Linked DNA regions of Homo sapiens. The protein of the gene in region 3 purifies or fractionates together with the protein of the main gene of each other region. This does not show direct contact. Each region holds a gene or a part of one and is shown on either strand. Other genes may lie near its edges.

Region 1 (4,935 bases), on a different chromosome or scaffold from region 3:
CTTCCTGTCTTTGTTTTGATACCTAATTTACAGTATATGGCCAACTGATTTTTGATTTTTAAAACTTATTGAATGGAGAAAGGGTAGACTTTTCAACAAATGGTTTTGGAACAACTGGACATCCATGGACAAAAGGAAAAGAAAAATGTACCAAGATCTAAAGCTCACATCCTGTGCAAAAATGAAACCAAAAAGGATCACGGATCTAAATGTAAGACATATAAGGGTAAAACAGAAGAAAAAATGAGAACAACCTCCTGACCTAGAGTTAGGCAGAGAGTTCTAAGATAGGCACTAAAAACACGATCCATATATTGAGAAGTTGGACTTTAACAAAATTTGAAACTTTTTTGCTGCTAAAGACACTGTTAAGAGAATGAAAAGACAAGCCAGAGACTGAGAGAATATATTTACAAATCATATATTTGGCAAAGGATTTTGTATACACAACATATAAAGAATGCTCTAAAATCAGTAAGAAAACAAACCAATCACAAAACGGGTAAAAGACTTGAACAGACAAATCACCAAAAAAAATATGAATGGCAAATAAGCACATGAAATCATCAGCCATTAGGATGCAAATTAAAGCCATGACAAGATACCAGTACGCACAAAAAATATCACCAATACCAAATGGTAGTGAGGTTGTGGAGAAACTGTATCTCTCAAACACAGCAGCACCCCCTTCATCTGTGAGGGATACATTCCAAAGCCCTCAGTGGATACCTTAAATGGTGGAGAGTATGGAGAGTATCGAACCCTACATAAATACGTTTTTTCCTATACATACATTAGATAGACATACTTATGATGAAGCTTAATTTATAAATTGGAGCCAGTTAAGAGATTAACAACAATACTAAGAGTAATTATAACAATATGTCAGCGGCCAGATGCGGTGGCTCACTCCCTGCAGTCCCAGCACTTTGGGAGGCAGAGGCAGGCGGATCACCTGAAGTCAGGAGTTCGAGACCAGCCTGGCCAAAATGGTGAAACCCTGTCTCTACTTAAAATGCAAAAATTTGCGGTGCGTGGCAGCAGGCGCCTGTGACCCAGCTACTAGGGAGGCTGAGGCAAGAGAATCGCTTGACCCTGGGAGGCGGAGGTTGCAGTGAGCTGAGATCACACCATTGCACTCCAGCCTGGGGGACAAGATAAGAGACCTGCCTCAAAAAAAAAAAAAAAAAAAATGCCAGCATCACTAGTCTTGCACTTGGGGTCACTACTAAGTACAATAAGGGATTCTCAAACACAAGCACCAAGACACCAGACAGTCAATCTGATAACCAAGAGTGACTAACTAGCTGGTGGGTAGTGTATACAGTGTGGATATGCTGGACAAAGGGATGATTTACACCCCACCTGGGACAGAATAAGAGGGCTCAAGGTTTTATCACTATATGACCCAGCAGTTGAATTTCTAGATATTTATTCTAGAACAATTAAAACTTACAGTCACAAAAGAACCTGTACATTAATGTTCATAGCAGCTTTACCTGCAATCACCAAAAACCAGAAACAACCCACATGGCCTTCCATGGGTAAATGGTTAAATGTGATACAGCCATAAAATGGACAAGCACTGTGCAATTATCAAAAGCAGGAAAGTGACACTAATACAATATTCATCACTGAACTACTTATTGAAATGTCAGCTTTTACATTCTTTTGTGTGTCTAATTCTAGGACATTGTGTCATGTGTACAGATTCATGTAACCATCACCATAAACAAGACACTGAACTGTTCTATCATCTCAAAGAAAGTCAGCCCTAACCCCAGCAAAACCGGTCTGTTCTGCATTTCTATAATTTTGTCATTTTGAGAATCCTATATAAATGGAATCATACAATCTCTGAGACTGGCTTTTTTCACTCAATACAATGCCCTTAAACTCCAACCAAGTTGCTGCATGAACCAACAGTTTGTTTCTTTTTTTGATGGTGGTGTTCTACCGCAAGACTATCACATTTTATTTAACCATTCACCCACTGAAGGACATGTGAGTTGTTTCTGGTTTTTAGCTATTATAAACAAGGCTTCTACGAGCATTCATGTACAGGTTTTTTTGTGAACGTTTTTATTTCTCTAGGATAAAGGCTCAGGAGTGCAATCGCTGGATTGTGTGTCAAATGTACGTTTAACTTTTCGAGAAATTGCCAAACTAATTTCCAGAGTGGTTATATCATTTTACATTCCTACCAGCAACATATGAAAGATAAATTTTAGAGTCAGCATTTCTAAAGTATTTTCTGCAAGTCTGAAAAAACAAGATTAAACTTCTTAAATGTTATAACCTGAACTTATTTTTAAAAAATGAATTTTAAAACTTTTTTCCTGATTCCCAAATAACAGATTACCTCTAAGAAAAAAATGCATACAGCTGACCCTTGAACAACATGAGTGTGAACTGTGCAGGTCCACTTATACACAGATTTTCTTCTGCCTCTGCCACTCCAAGACAGCAAGACCAACCTCTCCTCTTGTTCCTCCTCCTGAGCCTACTCAACACCAAGACAATGAGGATGAAGACCTTTAAGATGGCCCACTTCCGCTTCATGAACAATAAATATATTTGCTCTTTCTTAGGGTTTTCTTAATAATATTTTCTTTTCTCTAGCTTATTGTATTGTAAGAATATAGCATATAGTACATATACAAATATGTGTTAATTGTTTATGCTATTGGTAGGGCTTCTGGTCAACAGGCTATGAGTGGTTAAGCTTTTGAGGAGTCAAAGCTTATACATGGATTTTCAACTGCATGGGGGTCAGCACTCCCAACCCCTGAGTTGTTCAAGGGTACACTGTAATTACATATAATCTCTATGTTGATAGCTGTTGCCAAATTACATAGTAAACTGCAATAAGATGTGAAAAAAGCAACTCTAAAGACTACAGTAGAAACATTAACAGTTTCTCTCCCTGTGTCTTCCAGACACATTCTATAAATACTTAAGGTCTAATAGTTCTTTCTAACACTTAATATTGTGAAACGCAATCACAATGCACTAATACTTAGTGTCATCAAATGATGACTTTTCTTTAGCTGTCACTTGATAAAAACAATCTAAGAAAAGCAATTAACCTGAAATAAAGCTGTGGTTATCTTAGCTATGTCTAACTTCATGGTTTGTTTAATTTTAGATATAAATGACAATTAGATAATGCAATCTCTTTTGGATTCTTAAAGCAAGTATCTAAGTCTAGAGCAGACATATCTGCCGACATACAAACAGCCAGACAGACGGTCCTCAAAAAGAAAATAAAATAAATACACAGAAAGAAATTATAAGGTCCCTGGAACAGTGGAATGAGGCTGCTCGTGTTCCTAATGACTTTCAGTTCTCATGTTTAGTCCCCTGCAGGACCAACTATATTGTTCCTGATACTGAGCTCCACAAGACACGTGTCCTTCCATTATCAGTATGATATTTGCTTTAAAAGTATATGACAGACCATTCCCAAATCTCAAATTTAATTTGCTTGTGCTTGCAATTTAATTATTTACTTCATCTAGTATATCTTCCCATTTAATGAATTACTTACCAATAAACATTTTAGTATACACGTTTAATATTCATCTTAAATATTTGCCAGTGTGAACAGTATCTACCTTAATTTTCAAATCCTAGAGTACTGGTTCCCATCCTATGGGCAAGAAACCCATAGAGAGATAGGAGTAACTGCAAAGAATCATCAAAATCCATATACTTACCTAAAGACTAAATAAATGTGATTCACAAACATATATGTTTCCAAGCTGACAAAGATACTGTGGCTAATAAAAATCTTAATAAATTTCCTGAAGAATGTTGGTAAAAGTAGAGCAGTTTCTTCTCATCAGTATTTATTGATGAATACTAAAAATCTAACTCCTAATATGGGAGAAGGGCCATCGCTCGTACCTCTCTAGATTTTCTAGAGAGCTTTTCTTTTTTAAAGTGTTGCCCATATGTCACTCAGAACAGGAGGAGTAGGATGTGCTTGAATTTGAGTGCAAAGATTTAAGACAACATTGGGAGAGATGGAGCAGGAGTAATTGGGAAAGTGCATGAAATTACTTCAAAACAGCAACTTCAGAATGCTGGGTGCTTAAATATCATTCAAGCACCAAAGGGAAAAAATTCAAAGGACAGAGCCCTCTGCATCTTTATAATGGCAAGTAGAAATATATTCACAGGAATTTTGATCAAAAGAGCCAAACTTATCCTAGAGTAAAAATACATCTTGGTTACAACACCTACCTAAATGTTTTATTAGGGTTCTATCACCCTTTTAAATTAATCTTGTACCTTTATTAAACATTTTCTACATTTTAACATTAATAGTGCAGTTTTTCAAAGGCGCCCTACACATTTATTGGATTATTCTGTGCTGGATGCTAGATAAAGTTAAAAAAAAAAAAAAAAAGACGTACACTAATTTAAAACAAAGAAAACTTGCTTCAGCAAAACACTACAATAGCAATAGACTTTGCACCTAGCACAATTCCTTGTAAATAGGGGGCACGTGATCTCTGCTGAATAAATGAGTCCATTTCTCCTTACTCCGAAAAATAACCCTGGCAAGCATGTAAAATATCCTACCAGTCTGAAAAATATTCTCCAGTCCTATTCAGCTACCAATCCATTCTCAGAACCCATCAAGAGCAATTTTCATGAAAGCCTCACTCACACGCACAAAGAGGCAGCATTTAATTCCCATTAGGCTCACTGCCTGATCTACGGAGATATAAGCATTTGCACATTTGCATAAATTCAGGAGACATCCTTCATTTGATATAAGGTAAATCTTAAAGCTTCGCTTCATTTCCAAATAAGTTTTATTTTTCAAATCAAAAATATTTTTAAAGTTTTATTTTTCAAATCATAATCCTAATCATAGTACATTATATCTTATTAGGGATGCTTTTAAGAAAAAAAAATATAGCT
Region 2 (4,689 bases), on a different chromosome or scaffold from region 3:
AGATATGTCTAACTTCAAAACTTGTATGTGCTTAAACTCTACATTACACCACTATCCCTTTAAGCTCATGTACTTATTTATTTATTTATTTAAAGAGTGAGTCTCACTCTGTCACCCAGGCTGGAGTGCAGTCGCACAATCTCAGCTCACTGCCTCCCAGATTCAAGTGATTCCCCTGCCTCAGCCTCCCAAATGGCTGAGATTACAGGAATGTGCCACCACACCCGGCTAATTTCTGTATTTTTAGTAGAGACAAGGTTTCACCACGTTGGTCAGGCTGGTCTTGAACTTCTGGCTTCAGGTGATCTGCCCGCCTCAGCCTCCCAAAGTGCTGGGATTACAGGGGTGAGCCACCACACCCAGCCTAAGCTCATGTACTTTAGCTCATGCTCATCCTCTTTTAGTTCCAGACACAGTTTTAGCAAACTTGGATACCATTTCCTGGCTCAGAGCAGTGACTAAGCTGTAAATCAGAGGGCTAGGGGTTGAGGAATAAGTGCCCAAGAAGTGACAGATGGCAAGACAACCCTTAAAAGCAGAGCCTTCTCAGGCACAATACCCTTTACTCCTTTGTAACTGCTAAACGCCATAACAAAAGACAGTCACTGATATTTATAATTATTGAATCACAGATTTTTAGACATGGCAGCATCAAAAAAGGCAAAATCATTATTTCATATTTTCTGCTTCAGGAAGCAGGTAGTGTGTGATACATTTTAAAAGACTTATCTTGGGTATTCCTCAGAGCAGAGCCTGAGACAAGGATTTAGGTACAGGTATGGTTTTTTGGAGGTGACCACAAGAAGCAGGAGGGTGAGTGGGAAGAATGAAACAGAGCAGGAAGAAAGCCATTAAGGATATATTAACATTATTGAAGTTGACTTGAGGGCAAAGGGGGCTGAACTCCACTAGCACCTCCTAAGAAGCCTGCAGAACAGCATCCAGAATTGTCCTGTGGATCTGCCGGCTCCTGCCTTGCCTCGGTTGCAGGTTGCCCCTGGGTGCTGTGCCTGCGTGGCTGAGTAGGCTCTTGCTTCAGTGTTAGAGAAAGCCTTGGTGCAGAAAGATGGACAGTGTGTGCTGGGCCAGGGGGTCTGCTACCCACAAGGTGGGCATGCATTTTTGCTGCACTGTCCCCACAGCTGTGTTTGAAATCACAGTGACCCAAGCAGATGGGTCACAGGGCATCAGAGGATCTGCTAAAAACATTTCCATCCAAAATGCTGCCAGAGAATGCTTTGATGCCTAGTGGGCTTCAGCTGTCTAAAGAAGTATCTATAGACCCTCACATGCCAAAGCTCTGCTAAATAGATGAGGCGTTGTGATATCATAGTTTTCTGTTTCAGGTAAAGCACCCTCAGTGATTTCTATCCCTCGCTGTAGGAATCGGTGGTGGAATTATCCATCAGCATGAATTGATCCACGGAAGCTCCTTCTGTGCTGCAGAACTGGGCCACCTTGTTGTGTCTCTGGATGGGCCTGATTGTTCCTGTGGAAGCCATGGGTGCATTGAAGCATACGCCTCTGGAATGGCCTTGCAGAGGGAGGCAAAAAAGCTCCATGATGGTTGGTGTCCCTCTCTCGAGGAATTAAGTAACCAAATAGTAGACAAGTACTTCAAAGTGGAAATTCCAAAGACAGCTGAACACTGAAGCCAGAAGTTTCCCCCTTTTCACTTCTTAGGGAAAGAGCAGGGCTCCCTCGCACTAAAACTGCACAGTCTTCTTGGCTGACCCATATTGCCACTCTTCCTCCCCAGGGGTGGTGGTGGACAGAGGTCTAGAGTTCCAAGACAGCAGGGAAGATTTCCTTCAGTTTTGTTTTCTCAGCCAGTATCACAGGGAGGGTACTTAATACACATTTTAATGAAGAAATAAATGGACAAAACATGTTATGTATATATCACACATACATGCACTGTATGTGTAGTATATCTGTGCTTCATACATAAAAACAGTGTAGATTTTTGGCCCCCAAAACCAATTTGTGAGCATATGCTGAAGGAAAAGAGATGGGGAGTGGAGGCCGAGAGTGCAGGAGAGAAGTGTATAGAGCCCTACAGTAGGGTTCTGAAGAGGTGGGAAGAGATGAGCTGCAAAGCCAGGCAGAGGGTCCACGAGAGGGCATGGCGAGCCGAGATGATGGGTGTATGGGACAGGAAGCAAAAAGGTAGGGGATCACTGCCTGGTGGTGCCCCCTATGAGAGAGGTAAGAAGTATGCTCGTCTGTTGGCAGTGGGGGTAGAAGGACTGGGAAGGTGGTGAAGGTATAGAAAAGCGCAGTCAGAGAGAATGGGTGAGAGCTGTGAGGGCCCAGGGGAGACAGGAGACCACCAGTTGATGTCTAGGTTGCAGTTTGCACAGCTGGGGATTTTTCTCCTTCAGGGTCCAGATATTCTAGCAGATTAGTAGGAGGCAGATTGATCTGAGTTGGTGACGGGCAGAAGACAAGGACTACAGATAACCACAGAAATACCTGCTGCTTACTGAGCATTTACTGTGGCCAGCACTTAACTAAATACTTTATGTCCATGATCTCATTCCGTTCCTCAAATAACCCTGCCAGGGGAGGCACTACTGGTCTCATCTTCTAGGAAGGAGGAATGTGTACAGGTGAGGTGACAGGCATGGGGTCATGCAGCTGGGAGTGGCAGAGCTGGCACTGACCCCAGGCCTGTGTCTGTTCCTCAGCCACTGTGCCTCGCTGCCATAGAACGCGTGGCGCTGGCAGATGGCACAGCATTGTGTCTGGGATGAGTAAGGAAGGAGTGAATGTGGGAGGAGGGTGATAATTTGGAGAAAAGAACACTTCAAAGACTGTCTGCTACTGGAAGTGAGAAGTGAGGGAGCCAGAGGGGTAGGAGGCTGTCGTCAGACTTGAGGTTTTTCCAGGAAGATAGGTTCTGGGTTATGTACAACCAATTAGCAAGAGGGTAGCAAAGGCTTTAGGGGCAGTGTATAGAGATGTTTGTGAACGATAAGCTTTGCAATTGTGAAAAGAAAACACCGTCTTCCCATGTAGGGGCTTGCTTTCCACAGGCCCAGTGGTGAGCTTGGCCTCCCCACAGCTCATTAGTGACTGCTTTTCCTTCTCACTCTGTTCAGAGGACCTGCTCTTGGTGGAAGGGATGTCAGTGCCAAAAGATGAGGCTGTGGGTGCGCTCCATCTCATCCAAGCTGCGAAACTTGGCAATGCGAAGGCCCAGAGCATCCTAAGAACAGGTGAGCATGTGGCTGCAGGTGGCTGTGCTGCAGGGGGTGGCCTCAGATATCATATGGCCCAGCCCGGCCCCAGAAGAGACCCTGCTTCCCTAGGGACAGGTGCTTTGCAGTGTCTGTTCAGAGGTTTCTTTCCTAATTACTCAGAGGTAAAAAGGGAATTGGATTCAAGGTATTTGGCAGCATTGCCTTTTTCAGCAGGTGGTTGGTTTGGTTTGACAACTATAAAAATGCTCCTTTCATTTTACAGGAAATTTAGAGAAATATAGGACAGTTGTAAGAAAAAATATCACTTAGTTTTCCCATTTGGAGGTATCAACTATTAACATTTCCTTCGAGTCTTTCTATTCATTTTTTTGCCTAGTGGAGATCATGTGGTACACCCGGCTTTTTCCACTTGAGGCTGTCACATGATCATTTTCTCATATTAAGAATCAACCGTGAACTGCTTTTAAAACACTGCCTCCCACTGCATGCCGTGGATGTTCTTTAACATTTCTGCTGCTGGCTCTTTTCTGCCTTCCTCTTTGGTATTTTGATTTTGGCTTCTCTCAGAAACTCATTTTAATTTTTGTCTCCCTATAGCTGGAACAGCTTTGGGTCTTGGGGTTGTGAACATCCTCCATACCATGAATCCCTCCCTTGTGATCCTCTCCGGAGTCCTGGCCAGTCACTATATCCACATTGTCAAAGACGTCATTCGCCAGCAGGCCTTGTCCTCCGTGCAGGACGTGGATGTGGTGGTTTCGGATTTGGTTGACCCCGCCCTGCTGGGTGCTGCCAGCATGGTTCTGGACTACACAACACGCAGGATCTACTAGACCTCCAGGAACAGACATGGACCTTCTCTCCAGAGCTCCTGAGTGGAATCAAGTTCTTGTCTTTAGGATGACCGTTTCTTAACAATCAAATCTGGTATTGAACTGCAGGTGACTTTGGCAGAGAAATGTTTTCACTTTTGGTCTCCTCTTCCAGAGTCACCTTTCCCCACTCCTATTTTTGTAGATGCTATTCTTTCTGATGTCTTCTTACTAGGGGTCATTTTAGCTCAAACCCTGTAAGTTACAGTCACAATTTTCTGTGCCAAAGCAGCTACAATAATAGAGAGGAAGCCTTCTTAGAACTCTGCTTACTAATGTATTAATACCACTGAGACCTTCAGGCCTTGCCTGGGATATCACTTCATCCTGAAGTTTGCATTAATAATCCTTCCAGGCCGGGCACAGTGGCTCACGCCTGTAATCCCAGCACTTTGGGAGGCCGAGGCGGGCGGATCACGAGGTCAGGAGATCGAGACCGCCCTGGCTAACATGGTGAAACATGGTGAAACCCCGTCTCTACTAAAAATACAAAAAATTAGCTGGGTGTGGTGGCGGGTCCCAGCTACTCGGGAGGCTGAGGCAGGAGAATGGCATGAACCAGGGAGGCGGAGCTGGCAGTGAACTGAGACCGCACCACTGCACTCCAGCCT
Region 3 (4,935 bases):
ACAACAACATATTAAAAAAAAACCTGACAATAGTTTATTCTACAAAATCCAGTTTGGTTCTATATTGGAAACTTTTATTACAATTAATCAAATTAGTAAGCCTAAAGAGAAAAACCATATAATCATCTCCACAGATGCTGAAAATGCATTATGACAAAATTCAACATCTTGATAAAATACAATAAAAATGAAGTATTCTTCCTTAATGTGATAAATGATATGTATTGTAGATGAAAAGCCAGTATTATGCTTGAATCAGAAAGCACTAGAGGCTGGGTGCAGAGGCTCATGCCTGTAATCCCAGCACTTTGGGAGGATGCGGCGGGCAGATTACTACAGGTCAGGAGTTTCAGACTAGCCAGCAAACATGGTGAAACCCCGTCTCTACTAAAAATACAAAAAGTAGCCGGGCATGGTGGTGTGTGCCTATAGTCCCAGGTACTTGGGAGGCTGAGGCAGGAGAATTGCTTGAGCCCAGGAAGCAGAGGTTGAGTGGGCCAAGATTGTGCCACTGAACTCCAGCCTGGATAGAAGACAGAGCAAGACTCCATCTGAAAAAAAATAAAAAAATAGAAAGCGCTAGAGGAAACTAAAAGTAAGGAACATGACAGAATTTCCTCCATTACCACCACCAGTTAACATTATACTAAAGTACTTGCACAAATGAAAAGCATATCATATTTGTAGGAAGCTTCAAAAATCACAGTATCTATTCTCCCCAATTTAATGTCATCAAAATAATATGCCAACTGGGTTATTATTTACTTTTATATTAAGGGATTAACAAAAGAGCAATACAGGAACACTGAAAACAAAGAGCTTTGAGTAGGGATTGCCATCACAGATATTAAATGACACTGAAAAGCCTCTATAGTCAAAACAGTATGATAGACGTGTATGAAGAAATATCCAACCACTGGAACAGAACAGAAAATCTAGAAGCAAACTCAAATACATGTGGAAATTTAGTATAAGATAAAGAAGGTATTCTCAAATCAGTGGAGGAAAGGTGTACTATTCAATACAACCTAATCTACTTTGAATAATCCAGGAATAGGAAAGCTCTTTCTAACTACAGGCAAAATCCAGACTACATAAACATTCAATTAGCAACAAAAAACTTCTGCAACACAGATTAAAAAAAAAGTGACAAAATGAGAAAAAAATCTGCAACTTAACATAGTAAGTGCTAAACTCAAAAATTCATAAAATACCAAGAACCTAACAGAAAACAATAAGCAACTGTTTCCATGTCCCAGAACTGAAACAAACAGAAAGAGCTTTATGAAGGCATAAACTACAGCTTTTTCCTTGTTTCCCATCCCCAGGCCTGGCATATAGTAGAGGCTCAATAAATGTTTATTGAATGCATTTTATAACTGATGGCTTTTATACACAGCCAGAAACATGAAAATTATTTTTATAAAATTAATGATTTGTAACAGCCTGGAAAAAACGTAATCTGACTTATGTTCCTAAAATTAGTTGAGAGTGGAAACTAAGTTATTTCTAGATGTTTCGATAGAAGGCAGAGCTAGAAAGCATATATTGTACAGCATGAGTAAATAACTTTAATAAACTCACACGAATGTCTTGTCTGTTGACGAAAGGAAATCCAGTATAGGAAATAACAAAGTTAGCACTGTAATCTTTAAAATCAAAGGACAACAATATGTATAATTAGGTATGTGATAAAGGCTTATTCAGTGGAGGATTATAGATAAACATAATATATAACTTGAATTTACCTTCTACCATATTACCATCCTTCTGAAAAATTCTCTCTTCACACCACTGACAATGGATCAGGTATTGAATCTTCTTGGCTGTTTCATCTGCTGAAGTAGGTCCCCTCAAAACTCTCACAACTACCAACACAAAATGTTCCAGAGCCACTGCAAACAGTACTTCTATGCCTTTGTTGCATCGGGCTGCAGCTCTACAATAAATTTTTTCAAGTTATTTTGTGGGCTTATCATTTTCCCTTGTTTGGCATTATACTGACAATATTAACCTGGACAGTATACTATGGATAAGTTATGGGACATCAAGAAAAATTCAATTCTCAGTAGCAGTGCTTTTAAAAGATCATTACTGTAACTTTTACAGAAATTGAAACACAGGAAATAAAAGATGCTTGGGAGGGTCTTCAGTTTCTAGACATTTTCCCTTGCGATATCCTCTCAATAGGGCAATATTTTCTGGTTTTCAGTCATTTTCACTTTGTTTCTTATCATCACCACCACATTGCTTCCTTTTTATCTATTTTATTTCCTATAAAAGCTTCTTTCAAACAGTATCTATTTATTGAGTAATGACTATATGCAGGATAGTATGCTAGCTACTGAAAATTGAGTGAAAAAAGAACAGTCAAAGTCCTTTCCACCATTAATTTCACAGACTTTTTGGATTAAGCTCTACTATATACCATTTATGTACTCTGCAGTCATATACTACATTTAATTTATATATATTACTCTGAATTTGCTGATATTACATTATAGACATTTTTAAGTATGTGCAGTTAAGTCCTTAGCATGCATACAGTAAACATCAGTTTTCAGGTAATTAGAAACAACCCTGAAGGTCTATGAAGTCTAATAATCTGTATTTATCCTGAGGTAGAAATTTCTACTTAAATGCTCTGAAACTAGTATTGGGGCTGGCAAGTGAGCTGGCTGATTATCCATTATCTATATTCACAATATCCGTTTATATTATATTATTCTAGCATAATCTGCATATAGTAAGTGCTCAAAAAAAGTCATCCTTTTAAAAAATAACTGTTTTCAAATTCTGTTTGGAAATCCTGGTGAGAAATGGAGAGAACTTCCCATTTTGTAAGACCATTTTGCAGAATCAAGTTTGTAAGCCATCATTTTATTCAAACTATATAAATAAAGAAGATAAAACAGAATGGATATAAAAGAAATGACTGTTTCTTTCTGAGGCAGAGTCTCACTATGTTGCCCAGGCTGGAGTGCAGTGGAGCAACCTTGGCTCACTGCAGCATGTGGCTCCTGGGTTCAAGTGATTCTAGTGCCTCAACCTATAATCGTAGCTGTGATTACAGGTGTGTACCAACATGCCCAGCTAATTTTTGTATTTTTAGTAGAGACGGGGTTTCACCATGTTGGCCAGGAGTCTTGTTTCATCCTGGGCAACATGGTGAAAAAACAAAACAAAACAGTTTTTGCTTTTCCTTTCATATAGCTATCCTTTATCCTACATTGTTGAAATAAACTGGAAATTAACTTTCACTTTTACCTTTTCTTTCTTATACTTTATTTCAGTAACATTTTAATTGGAGAGTAAACTGAATATTTCAGGTATAAACTTTTAAATAAAATTACAACAGATACCACGTAAGATTAAAAACCAGTATTACAGATAAGGAATACAGAATTTATATTTTGTGCATATTTTGAATAAGGTAAGTACTTCTTGTAATATTATCTCTTTTTATCAAATACTGAAACACACTAAGTACACTGTTGGCAATTTGGTACCTTGCCACTGCAGCTACAACAATTCTGGCTGCTAGTTCCTTGTAATATTCAGTTCGGACAATGTTACATCCGTAGTGACGCCGGGCAACATGCTGTGCCTTGGCATATAAAGAACTGATATCTGTAGAAGTCACTGACACTATGCCAAGGTTTCTTATATTTCTGAATGCAGAATCTAGATAATTCACTGATGTTCCAAAAGGGTCTAGATGTCTAAAATCAGAAAGAATATAGACATTTTAAAGTCATATTAGTAACAAAAATTATACCACTGTAATTATTTCTAATTATAAAATTCCATGGATTTAAAAATACATTGCAAATATATTTTAAGTACATAATTCTGTTTTGAAATTAAGTAATAAAATGATAGTATGATGTATCAGACATGTAAAAATAAATTCGGGTTAGAGGAAAAGTCACATGCCCAGGCATTTTATTTCAAATACTAGAAAATTTTCATACTGCATACCTTAGGCCAATGTCAAAAAATGGCATTAATTTAAATAAATAAACAACAAAAAACTGTCTTAATTTTTAACTACTCCTCGTCCCCAAAATTTCAGATAAGTTTAGAAAGTGACACGGCAAGTCTTTTCTACTTACATGAAATCAAAAGATCTCAAATGCATCAGTACATTGGCATCCATTTTGGTCACCTTAATATTACCAAGATTTTTCTCTCCTTCTTCAAGAATATCATCACTCTTTTCCTTTTCCTTACTGTCCACCACCACTTTCAATTTGTTTAAATGGCAGTTTTCCTGAATCAGTGTCACAGAATTTTCATTCAAGTCATTGATTGTAACTTTGACTGCATTTCCAAGATGTTTTGCCCACTGTAATCCCATTATCCCTTAGGAAAAATGGGAAGAAAATGAGTTTTATAATTGTAATAATTTTAAAGAATAAAAATGGTATAACAACATTCAGTTTTATAAATAACAAATTATTTCAAAATTTAATGTTTTCATGAATCTTATTCCTTCTTACTACAAAGCTTCTCAAGAAAGGTTATAACTAAAAATCTGTCTAACAGATTTTAACTAATACTTCTTCTAAACCTATTTTATGATCCTTGTTCAAATAAAATCTCTATGTATGCTTTTTATTTTGTTGAATAGTGGAAAATGTTTTCTTTTTTGCTTTTTTTCTGACCATGGAATACTTTATACAAATGGGATTACTCTGCTTGAAGGGAGGATGGGAAGTTGGAATACCTCCTGCTGAAGTTTACCATCATGGACCAAAATATGAAAAACTTTTCTGGACCAACACTTTTCAAACACTGCACAATAGCATTGTTGTGAATTAAAAAAAAAAAAATTGTGGCCAGGTGAGATGGCTCACACCTGTAATCTCTGCACTTTGGGAGGCTGAGGCAGGTGGATCACTTGAGCCCAGGAGTTTGAGACCAGCTTGGGCA
Region 4 (4,326 bases), on a different chromosome or scaffold from region 3:
TGGAGTTCATCTGTTTTGACAAACCTGTGTCTCCTGGGCCTTCGCCCTGCCGTACCTGGACTGGCCTTTCTCTAGGTGCCGTACATGTTAGTGGGGGCTCCTTATTTCCTGGATTCTATGACTTTCTTATTTCTACCTTATTCCTTCATTTTAGTGAGGAACACCTCCTAGGAGCTTCCTGAGAAAAGATGCATGAGGATTATCTTCTTGTGAGTTCCTTTTTTCTAATCTCATATTTCATTGATAGGCTGGTTGGTATGTTAGTCTGCTAGGGCTGCCATATAAAATGCCAAAGATAGGGTGGCTCAAACAACAGAAATTTATTCTTCATAGTTTTGGAGGCTAGAAGTGCAGGATCAAGGTGTCAGCAGGTTTGGTTTCCTCTGACACCCTTTTCCTTGGCTTGCAGATGGCTGCCTTCTTGCTGTGTCCTCACATGGCCCTTCCTATGTCCAAATTTCCTCTTCTTAAAAGGACACCAGATTGAATTATGGCCAACTCTAATGGTCTTATTTTAACTTAATTGCTTCTTTAAATGGCCCTATCTGAGTTACTGGGGGTTAGGGCTTCAACACAGAAACACTGGAGGGACACAATCCAGCTCATAAGAGTTGGTACAGAATTTTAGGTTGGAAAAAATTTCCCCTCAGAATTTTGAGTATATTGCTCCACTATCTTCTAGTTTCCTCTGTGTCCTGCTAAGATGATGTCCCTTTTTTTGGGAGACAGGGACTTACTGTTACCCAGGCTGGAGTGCAGTGGTGTGATCTCAGCTCACAGCAGCCTCCACCTCCCAGGCTCAAGTGATGCTCCCAACTCAGCATTAAAGTAGCTGGGACTATAGGTGCGTGCCACCATGCTTGGCTAATTTTTAAAATTTTCTGTAGAGACAGGGTCTCCCTATATTGCCCAGGCTGGTCTCAAACTCCTGGGCTCAGATGATCTTCCCGCATCAGCCTCCCAAAGTGTTGGGATTACAGGTGTGAGCCATGGCGCTTGGCTGATGATGTCCTTAATGCATGGTGATACCTCTGTTCTCTCTCTAGAAGCTTTAGGATCTTTCTTTGCCTCAAAGTGGGGCTATTTTCATTCATTTTGCTGGAACTCAGTGAGCCCTTCAAATCTGCAAAATTGTGCCCATCTTTGGGGAAACTATTTCCCTGATGATTTCTGCTCCTTTGGTTTCTGTGGCTGTTCTTCCCACAAATCCTCTATTATTTAGATGCTGGAATGGAAAGCTTTCTGACTGTGGCCTTCACTTCAGAGATAGTAGTCTAGAGACCTACTGGAGTCGAGCCTCCAGCCTTCTGGGATGGGGGAGGGAGGGTAATGCAGCTCTAACTGCTTAGTAACAGAATTCTGTCTTTAGTCCCTCATTTCTAGAGGTGCCTTTTGAGAATTCCACAATCTACACAGAACTGCTTCTAGGCTTTCTATGGTCTACTAAGGTACCTGGGGCTTCCAAAGCCTTGTAGTTGCCTCCTCTTCCACTGTCTTTCTTACCTCATGACCTTTAGCCACAGCCTTAGTGGGGCTGCAGGATGGAATAGAGCTAAATATGTCTTCAATCCCATCTTTAAACATATACTTCTTAAATACATATTTATGGTCAAACAGGCCTGCTGTGCCCACTGGCCTCCCCTGCCTTCTGTAAATTTGCAACAGTCAGGTCACAGTCAGCCTGGGGGACGTCCCATGCTAAGGTCTTAGGTCGGAGTCAGGCACTGGCTTTTAGTGAGAAAGGCAGCCTGTAGCTGGTGAAGCCTGGATGGTGCCTGAAGGAGGAGCTGGAGGGTGAGGTCTGACTGGCCACTATGTTTGCTCCTCTGAGCCTGAAAGGTCCCAATGCCCAATGCTGTTTCAACTTGAACATTGAGCCCAGAAGTGGTTGTGAGTAGGACCAGGTGTGCAAACTTCACAGTGGTCTCTGTCCCCAACCACCCCAAGTGCTAGAGAAAAGAGTTCAGTAATTGGGATGGCTCCCATGTAGCAGCTGGTCCTGAATGGGTGGCTCAGTACATCTGCCCTCTGCCCTGATCCTGGATCCTCAAGGGTCCAATCCTTTGAGAAAAGGAACCAGGAGAGCGATGGGTCTGAAGCGCTGGTGTTGTAGAAATCCTCATCACAAAGAGGTGACTGCGTTCCAGTTGCTGCCAGGCCTGGCCATATTCCCACAAAGTGCCCATGTCTACAGGATGCTCAGCCCTTGCCTTCCTCTGTCCCGCCACCACCCTGCTCAGCTAGAAGGTGCTGCCTATATTTGAAGTTCAAGGTCTCTGTTGGAAGACGAAGCCCACCCAGGGCACACAGTTCTGTGATAACAGAGCCTGGAGTCGGCTCTAGAGCAAGACAGAGCTCCTGACCCCCATGCTGCAAGTCTTCTGTTTCATACACCCTACACCAGCTCTACAGAAAAAAACAGGACACCAGGGAGCAGAGGGACCCTAGGAAAGGGAAAACATGACAGACACCCTCATGTGGTTTGGCTGCGTCCCCACCCAAATCTCATCTTGAATTACCACGTGTTGTGGGAGGGACCAGGTGGGAGGTAACTGAGTCGGTGGGAGGTAACTGAGTCATGAGGGCGGGTCTTTTCCGTGCTGTTATCATGATAGTGAATAAGTCTCATGAGATCTGATGGTTTTATAAGTAGGTGTTTCCCTGCACCAGCTTTTTCTCTGCCTGCTACCATCCATGTAAGATGTGACTTGCCCCCTGCCATGATTGTGAGGCCTCCCCAGCCATGTGAACTGTAAGTCCATTAAACCTCTTTCTTTTGTAAATTGCCCAGTCTCGGGTACATCTTTACCAGCAGCTTGGAAACAGACTAATGCACACCCCTACTCAGAATGCCAAGAACTTCAGTCATCACTAGCAAATAAATCTCCTCATTACCAACCAAGGAAATACAAGGAAATACACTCACCTCTTCAACCTTTTTGACAAGGGGACGTGAATTTCTGATGAAAGTTATCTTACCAAGTTTAAATTCATAATTGGGAATTCCTCTGTAAGAAGAGACAGAGACAGAGAAATGTTATTTCCAGGAAAAAAGGACTAAAATTCATTTTTGACAGTCAAGAGGAACGCAGAAAAGATGCTGCTGCACCCCACCTGGGCCCTTTGGTGCTTCCTGGCATCCTCCCAGGAGGGAAGCAGAAAGTAACTGACTTCTTGGTTTGGTATCAATATTGGGTATAGGGCCAGGGGCTTTAGGCTCTGTACCTGTCTATGGAGAGGGGTCATCTGAAGGATTGGGAAGCCCTCACTGTCACTGTCCTGAGCTTCACAGAACCCCCTGAGGTGGCTAGACTCTCACTCCAGTATTCTGATTTCACACACACAACAGACAACTGACACACCTCAGCCCTGCCCCTGCCATCATGGCCACCAGAGGAAGGGTCTGCTGTGGGTCCCCGGACCCAGCAACAGAAGCACATCTGAGGTAGCTCCTCAGGGAACTTTCAGGGGAACTGAGATAATGTGACCTGATTAATAATTCCAAGTCACAAAACAGGAAAATAGGCAGATCACCAAATAGGGACCAGAAAGGTTTTGAGTAAGAGACAGATCTAATCAGACTCGCATCTTAGGAAAGCCAGTGGGGGCAAGAAGAGGCTGAATTGGGGGTATGGAGAGGTATGGAGAGAGGCTGGACCACAGTGGTACTGGGGGTGGCACTGTGGAAGGAGGGGCATGTTGTGCTCCACCCCACCAAGGAGAGCAGCTAAGGGTTTTAGTCCCTTGGGAGACTACTGACCCAGGCTTTGTCTCCAGAACTGGGGTGAGGCTGCCCGACCCCAGCGGGCTGGCACAGATCCTCCTCCTGTCCTGGAGGAGAGCCAGGACAGACCTACCTTTTAATATCTCCAGGCTTGATTGGGGAGGGGCTGGGCTCTACCCCTTTCTTCTTTCCATCCAGTCTATTGCCAGATCCAGAGAAAGCCTAGACAGGAAGTAGGTGAGTCATATAATAAGCCCAAGTGTGAGGACGATATGTCCTTTGCTTGGAGATCACTGCAGGGATGTGAGCTGGGGGTGCTGTGCAGACCCCTTCAGGACTGAAGCCCTGACTCCTCAACTGCTGGGGTGCTGGCAGCTAAGAACTCTGCCCAGTTCCTCAGGGGGTGGCCATGAGCTGAAGACAGCCACTTGGCCAAGGGCAGCCAGCAGTCAGTGTTGGGTTAAAAGACCTGATCCCTGCCTCTGCAGGGCCACCCAGTTCAAGCTCTATGGGTGGGCTAAGGCTACTGTTGTGACTGCCCCATAGCTCAGCTTCCCATCATTCTGCCCTCTCTGCTGCTTCCTGGCACCTCCTGCCACCTC

Evidence for each region. Proteins that work in one complex are often made in the same cells at the same time.
Region 1: the proteins of TRMT1L (region 3) and VRK1 fractionate together in Homo sapiens (co-fractionation; one large-scale study listed by BioGRID). This does not show direct contact.
Region 2: the proteins of TRMT1L (region 3) and GNE fractionate together in Homo sapiens (co-fractionation; one large-scale study listed by BioGRID). This does not show direct contact.
Region 4: the proteins of TRMT1L (region 3) and UFD1 fractionate together in Homo sapiens (co-fractionation; one large-scale study listed by BioGRID). This does not show direct contact.

Annotation. Positions count from the first base shown.
Region 1 is NC_000014.9:96,799,427-96,804,361, reverse strand, and holds part of VRK1 (serine/threonine-protein kinase VRK1), read right to left. Parts: intron 1-4,935. UniProt on the Homo sapiens protein: Serine/threonine kinase involved in the regulation of key cellular processes including the cell cycle, nuclear condensation, transcription regulation, and DNA damage response.
Region 2 is NC_000009.12:36,216,715-36,221,403, reverse strand, and holds part of GNE (bifunctional UDP-N-acetylglucosamine 2-epimerase/N-acetylmannosamine kinase), read left to right. Parts: intron 1-1,383; coding exon 1,384-1,566; intron 1,567-3,104; coding exon 3,105-3,221; intron 3,222-3,803; coding exon 3,804-4,039; 3' UTR 4,040-4,689. UniProt on the Homo sapiens protein: Bifunctional enzyme that possesses both UDP-N-acetylglucosamine 2-epimerase and N-acetylmannosamine kinase activities, and serves as the initiator of the biosynthetic pathway leading to the production of N-acetylneuraminic acid (NeuAc), a critical precursor in the synthesis of sialic acids.
Region 3 is NC_000001.11:185,135,858-185,140,792, forward strand, and holds part of TRMT1L (tRNA (guanine(27)-N(2))-dimethyltransferase), read right to left. Parts: intron 4,366-4,935; coding exon 4,116-4,365; intron 3,723-4,115; coding exon 3,510-3,722; intron 1,940-3,509; coding exon 1,749-1,939; intron 1-1,748. UniProt on the Homo sapiens protein: Specifically dimethylates a single guanine residue at position 27 of tRNA(Tyr) using S-adenosyl-L-methionine as donor of the methyl groups. Dimethylation at position 27 of tRNA(Tyr) is required for efficient translation of tyrosine codons.
Region 4 is NC_000022.11:19,451,823-19,456,148, forward strand, and holds part of UFD1 (ubiquitin recognition factor in ER-associated degradation protein 1), read right to left. Parts: intron 3,947-4,326; coding exon 3,858-3,946; intron 3,009-3,857; coding exon 2,927-3,008; intron 1-2,926. UniProt on the Homo sapiens protein: Essential component of the ubiquitin-dependent proteolytic pathway which degrades ubiquitin fusion proteins.